Linked DNA regions of Homo sapiens. The protein of the gene in region 2 purifies or fractionates together with the protein of the main gene of each other region. This does not show direct contact. Each region holds a gene or a part of one and is shown on either strand. Other genes may lie near its edges.

Region 1 (3,500 bases), on a different chromosome or scaffold from region 2:
AAACTCAAATAACAAAGAAGAGGGTTGAGTGAGGACCATGGAGGACTGGATAGTGGGTGGCCTTTCTCAAGGTGCTACTTAGCTCCACTTGGAAATTGCATGAATAGGATGCAAGTCTAGCGTTGCTAGAGCTGCTGATTTCCCAAGAGAGAGTGGAAATCTGAATTTTTATATATGACCCCGCATTTTAAAGTACTGGCAAATATTGTAAACATTTAAGAATCCTATCTGGGCCAAACAATACACATCTGAGAGATGGCTTTAGAGATCCATGAGCGGCCACTTTTGATCTTTGGCATAAATATTTGTTGAGTGGACAAGCGCAGTCATTGACACTATGTGCTGTTTGCTGTATTTCCTTTAGAGCATCCAGGTTCATTTGATATGGCTGTCATAGTAGGGGAAGCTGGGACCATCCTTTTTGAAGAATTTAGCAGAAAAATTCCCAGAAGTGTTGATTCTGCAGCTAGACATGTTAAAGGGGTCAGTTCAACATATTATCATCCAGCAGTATGCTTCATGCAGAGTTGGCTGTGGATAGTTCTAGGGACCCTTGAAATCAGAAGGAAGACCTGCTGTTTGCTTTGTTCTGAGTTCTATATTTGAAGTGGAGAATTATTTATTTGGACTTAAGATCATTGTTAAGAGAGTCTCCTAAGTGTTTCCCTCAGTCCTCGACAGAGTCTATAAAGTCTACAAACGTAGCCTAGAGCAGTAGACCTGCAAACATCCCCTAACATACTTGTCTGTGGTTTGTCTGTCATGCCTATTCCTTTAATGCAATGGCCCTATCTGTTGGATGACCGTATACTTTATTGTTTGATATGGGACAATTTTATTGTCAAAAGGGGCACCACTAATAATTATACAAGCACTGTGAGTAATAAACCTGGACTGTTGAGGACAAACCGAGATATATGGTCACCATGGCAAAGTTTGTGTTCATGCAGAGCCACCGAGTTGGAGGATTGTGGTTACTAATATAAAATGATAATGTTTTCAAGAGTATCTACTCACATATTGGAGTTGGATCTACATTTGACCTTAGAGCTGGGAGTGCTGTACTAATCGCTTGGGGGTCTGTTGTGGGGAGTTGCCACAGTGATGTGTTCCCTCTTGGCTCCACACCTCCCTTTGGGTCAGAGTCAATTTAAGGATGTGTGTCAGGAGAAGCATTCAACCAGAATGGCTCAATGCACCACTGTTTCTCCAAGGTGCAAAGAGAAATGGAGATGGGGGTGAAATGTATGCCAATGCAGATCTGTCTCTAGTCAAGCCTATGTAGTCTTATACAGGAGGAATGTCAGGCTTAGCACATTTCAGCTAAACTTGAATATTTGAACTGGGAAAAGGGCTTAATCCCATTGGCATGAAGTGAATTACAGACTTAAACTGATTGGGGAAACAAGAATATCTGATTCTCTCCCAAAGGTCTAGGATAGGTCACTAATACTCTGTAAATATTTATCCACTTGCAAAAAGAGTCTGTATGGCATTACCCAAATTTTTCTGTTAAAAAGTTATTTTATGTTATACATACATTACTACAATAAAAAATAAAGCAGGAGTTGTTATTGAAAATATGAGACTTTGTTATGTTAATTTTTAATTAACATTTGCCTGTGAGTTTTGAAGCATCATTATGTTTTATAATTATAGGATGAACAATCATTTAAAAGGTAAAAACATGATTGTTATAATGTTTATTGGTTGTTTTTGTGTATTATTTACTGAAGCTTGCAAGAATGATTTTAAAGAGACTTTACAAATTGTGTTCTTAAGATTAAAAAAAGGAATTTAATGCCAGTGTTTTCCCAACTCTCAGTTCTCTTAAAAACGTGTATTACTATCTGAGCTTTATTCACGTAACCAGTTTTTTTGTCAATATATTTTTAGAAGGTCATTTTTCAGTTCTTTTTCAAAGTTGATGGTTAGTAGCTTTGAGAATATACTAGTAAGAATACCAGAGAAATTGAAACCTGGAAGATTTCACCTCTCTGTGCTTTCTAAGAAGTTTGTTCTGTGGACAGATAGATCTATCTCTTTTTTTGTAATCATTTTTTATTCTCTCTCCTCCTTGCAGTCTGAAGTGGAGGTTAATTTGCCTTGGCTCTGTGGTAGAATCTTGACTGCAATATCTGGCGGAAAGGCACAAACATAGCCCAGAGACTCCCAGCCACAATGGAGCACATTATGATAGGAGCCCTAAGCTGAAAATTGAAGGTGTTCAGTGTCAGGGCTTGATTATCAGAAACCAGAGATTCTCAAACTTCAGTGTGTGTGTCAGAATTACCTAGAGGGCTTCTTAAAAGAGACCACTGGACCCTACCCTCAATTTCTGATTTAACAAGTTCTCTGGTGATGCTCAAACTACTGGCCGGGTGACCACAGTTTTAGAAACCCTGTGCTAAGTTATTTGGTTCATTTGGTTGGCTGTATGACCATTTCTGTTCCCCTGGATATTTTTGTAGTCTTTCTCAGACTTGAAAGTTCAAGTGGAATGTGAGGAGAAATAATATTTGACTCTGGAATATTTTTAAGAAGCTCTTCATCTTCTAGCTTAATGATTTGCCTGTCCTTTCCCTGATATAGACATTATTCTGCCAGACATCATAAGACCATGCAAATGTTGAATGAAAACTTTGCCTTTCAGCCAAAAGTTTTAAGTTCTGCAGGTGGAATAAACAGTTCATTTTGAGGGGAATACAGATAACCTAAAAATCTGAAGTCCAAAGTGTTTTAACGTCAGAAACGTTTTGAGCATCAACATGACACTACAGGTGGAAAATTCTTCACCTGATTTCATGAGATCACAGTCAAAACACACAAAATTATTAAACATATTGTATAAAATTACCTTGAGGCTATGTGTATAAGGTGTATAGAAACACAAATGAAGTTTTTTTGTTGTTGTTGTTTATTTTTTTGAGGTGGAGTCTCGCACTGTCGCCCAGGCTGGAGTGCAGTGGCGCGATCTCGGCTCACTGCAACCTCCACCTCTCAGGTTCAAGTGATTCTCCTGCCTCAGCCACCCAAGTAGCTGGGATTATAGGAGTGCACCACCACGCCCAGCTAATTTTTGTATTTTTAGTAGAGACGGGGTTTCACCATATTGGCCAGGCTGGTCTCAAACTCCTGACCTCAAGTGATCTGCCCGCCTGGGCCTCCCAAAGTGCTGGGATTACAGGTATGAGCCTCTGCACCCAGCCAGAAACATAAATGAATTTTATACTTAGACTTGGGTCTCATCCTTAAGATATCTCATTATGTATATGCAAATATTCCAAAATCTGAAAAAAAAATTCAAAATCTGAAACACTTCTGTTCCCAAGTATGTTGGATAAGTGATACGCAACCCATATATCCTAATTTCAGATTATGATAGTTTTTGAAAAAATTAAAGCTTGATTTACAGCCTGAGAAATAACACCATTCAGTAAGGCAGAGACTGTTCACATGCCCTTTTCTCATTTTGGAATGAGTAATTGCTTGGTGAGGAA
Region 2 (3,500 bases):
TATTATTTGTTTTTGATCTAAATGTCAGTATTAGTGTGACTGGGCAGAAAAAGCTCAGAAATAATTACAAATGGAGCTTGGAGGCCATAAAGCCCAGTGGTAAAAGCAGGCCTGCATGGGGAGCCCGGCTCTGCTTTTACCACTGGGTAAAAGCTCTGCCCTCTCTGTGGACTCCACGCTGGGGATTCAACCACTCCATGCAACCAGCTCAACCATAATAAGATCTACTATCATATGCTTATCATGAGGCTGTTGAGGGCCCCCATATAGTAAGTACTCATTGAAACACATTAATTAACTGGGCACGGTGGCTCACGCGTGCAATCCCACCACTTTGGGAGACTGAGGTGGGAGGATTGCTTGAGCCCAGGTGTTCAAGACTAGCCTGGGCAACATAGCAAGGCCCTGTCTCTATTTAAAAATAATAAAAGGCCAGGCGCGATGGCTCACGCCTGTAATCTCAGCACTTTTGAGAGGCCGAGGCGGGTGGATTGCTTGAGCCCAGGCAGTCGAGACCAGCCTGGCCAACATGGCAAAACCCTGTCTCTATTAAAAAAAAATTAGCTGGTCATGGTGGCACACGCCTATAGTCCCAGCTACTTGGGAGGCTGAGGTTGGAGGATCATCTGCGCCCAAAGGTTAAGGCTGCAGTGAGCCAAGATTGCACCATTATACTCCAGCCTGGGCAACAAATTGAGACTCTGTCTCAAAAAATAATAATAATAATAAAATTAAAAATTTTAAAAACCAAAAAAAATTCAACATAATCATTTAAGAAAGTACTAAACTGAGAGTTTAAAATATTTCAATTCTGTCACTGAAAATTAATATAAGGAGGCCAGGCACAGTGGCTCACGTCTGTAATCCCAGCACTTCGGGATGCCAAGGGAGGCGGATCAGTTAGGTCAGGTGTTCAAGACCAGCCTGAGCAATATGGTGAAACCCGTCTCTACAAAAAATACAAAAATTTAGCCAGGTGTGGTGCCACGTGCCTGTAATCCCAGCTACTCAGGAGGCTGAGGCACGAGAATCGCTTGAACCCAGGAGGCAGAGGTTGCAGTGAGCCAAGATCACGCCACAACAGAGCAAGACTCTGTCTTAAGAAACAAAAAATTACTCTAAGGAGCCTGTCCATGGAGTGGATTGATGGTGATGTTAGCTTCTCAGTTGTGTCACTTAACAGCCTACTCGCTGTCTATCTTGGGTAGAAAACAAAAGAAAGACTCAGCAGGAAAACAGGAACAGAAAGAGCTGCCGCTCGCCAGGGGAAAAGGACCCTTCCCCGCCGCTCTCCACGCAAGCATCCACAGCACTGGAGAAGGCAGTAGGCCAATAATCACGATTCCTACAGGACTCAAGGACTTTTACTTTCATTTTTTTGAGATAAAGTCTCTGTCACCCAGGCTGGAGTGCAGTGGCACAATCTCAGCTCACTACAGCCTTGACCTCCTGGGCTCAAGCGATCCTCCCACCTCAGCCTCCTGAGTAGCTGGGACTACAGGCATGCACCCCTATGCTCGGCTGATTTTTTGATTTTTTGTAGAGAGGGGGTCTCACTATGTTGCCCAGGCTGGTCATGAGCTCCTGCGCTCAAGTGATCCTCCTTCCTTGGCCTCCCAAAGTGCTGGGATTACAGGCATGAGCCACTGTGCCTGGCCTCAAGGAGTTTTAAATCCACCAACAAAACAAACCTTCTCCATCGTGCTGCTAAGACAACGGCTGTGTTCACACTGTGAGGATGGTGACACCAGAACATCATGACTTGCTCCTTCCTGAGTGCCTGACTCTATGTAACTACCGGACCACAGCCCTACTGCTAGCTGAGGGGGGGGCCCCTCCACTCAGGCCTTTGAAAACCACCTGTGAAAAGAATGATTCCTGGTTCCCAGAGCACCACCTCTGACCAGGAGACTGAGGACCAGCCATCTACCCACGCTGTGGACTTCTGGCACACCAACTACGCCCAGCCCGGCGATGCCAAGGGCCAGGTGTTGCTATTTTAGATCCAGCTTAAACAAAGGGATCCAGAGGGAGCTGTGAGGAGCTCAGGATTCCCTCGGCTCTTCGACCCTCTCCACCTACCTGTTCAGCACAGTCTACAGCCGTGCGCTGCCGCTTGTTCAGCACCTGAACTGACGCTCCGTGGAGCAGAAGCAGCTCTACCACGAAGACGTGCTTTTCAATCACAGCCTCGTGCAGCGCTGTGTTGCCCTTATTGTTAGAAGCGTTAATGGAGGCCCCGTGCTGGAAAGAGAAACCACACGATCAAAAGGAACGCTACGAAACGTCAGCATGGAATCTGGCTGTGGGTATACAGGTATTCGCTATAAAACACATTGTTTTTTTTATGTCTGAAAGTTTCCTTAAAATTTGGGGAGGAAAAGTAATACTGAGAAAAAAAGATTTATAGACAAAGAGTTCGCTGCAGCATTTATCCTAATAGCAGAGAAAACAGAAGCCACTTAAATGTACAGAGCAGAAACAGGTTCAAAAAAATCACTATGGTATATCCATAGTTATGCAACCATTAAAAATCAAAGTTTGAGTAAATAAGTTTCTACATTAAATAACATTAAGACAGAAAACAATACTTGGGGCCAGGCACAGTGGCCCATGCCTATAATCCCAGCACTTTGGGAGGCAGAGGCAGGTGGATCACCTGAGGTCAGGAGTTCAAGACCAGCCTGGCCAACATAGTGAAATCCCATCTCTACTAAAAAAAAACACCAAAAAACAAAAAAATTAGCTGGGCATGGTGGTGGGCGCCTGTAGTTCCAGCTATTCGGGAGGCTGAGGCAGGAGAATCGCTTGAACCCCGGAGGCAGAGGTTGCAGTGAGCTGAGAGTAAGCCACTGCATTCCTAGGTGACAGAGCGAGACTCCATCTCGGAAAAAGAGAAAACAATACTTGGCGAGGCCCCGTGGCTTACACCCGTAATCCAGCACTTTAGGAGGCCAGTGCAAGAGGATCGTTGGAGCTCAGGAGTTTGAGACCAGCCTGGGCAACATAGTGAGACCCCCATCTCTACTAAAAACAAACAGCAAAAACTAGCCAGGTGCAGTGGTATGTATCTGTAGTCCCAGTTAGCTGGGAGGCTGAGGCACCTGAGCCTGGGAGACTGAGGCTGCAGTGAGCTGTGAGGGTGCCATTGCATTCCAGCCTGGGCCACAGAGCAAGACCTTGTCTCAAAAAAAAATTAATAAATAACACTGAAACTATACACATTTGTCAAAAGTCCACCATAATGAGTTTCCCTTGAGTAGCACAGTCATGGACAGGTTGGTTTTTCCCTACTTCTTTAAGAAATTCTAATGCATTCACATAACCTTTTTCAAGAGCAGCAGGGACAGAGGCGGCCACTCAGCCCATGCTCAGGTAACAGCGTGACACATTCCCGGTCGGTGAGGTGAGACCCAAACCCTTGGCAAAAGCAGCGTCGGAGCCCTTGAGACCGCATCCCAGATGCTGGGGCACCATCTGTTCCCATCGGAGAACCCCGT

Evidence for each region. Proteins that work in one complex are often made in the same cells at the same time.
Region 1: the proteins of ANKRD27 (region 2) and TBC1D4 purify together in Homo sapiens (affinity purification with mass spectrometry; one large-scale study listed by BioGRID and IntAct). This does not show direct contact.

Annotation. Positions count from the first base shown.
Region 1 is NC_000013.11:75,475,670-75,479,169, reverse strand, and holds part of TBC1D4 (TBC1 domain family member 4), read left to right. Parts: intron 1-3,500.
Region 2 is NC_000019.10:32,602,181-32,605,680, forward strand, and holds part of ANKRD27 (ankyrin repeat domain-containing protein 27), read right to left. Parts: intron 2,245-3,500; coding exon 2,083-2,244; intron 1-2,082. UniProt on the Homo sapiens protein: May be a guanine exchange factor (GEF) for Rab21, Rab32 and Rab38 and regulate endosome dynamics.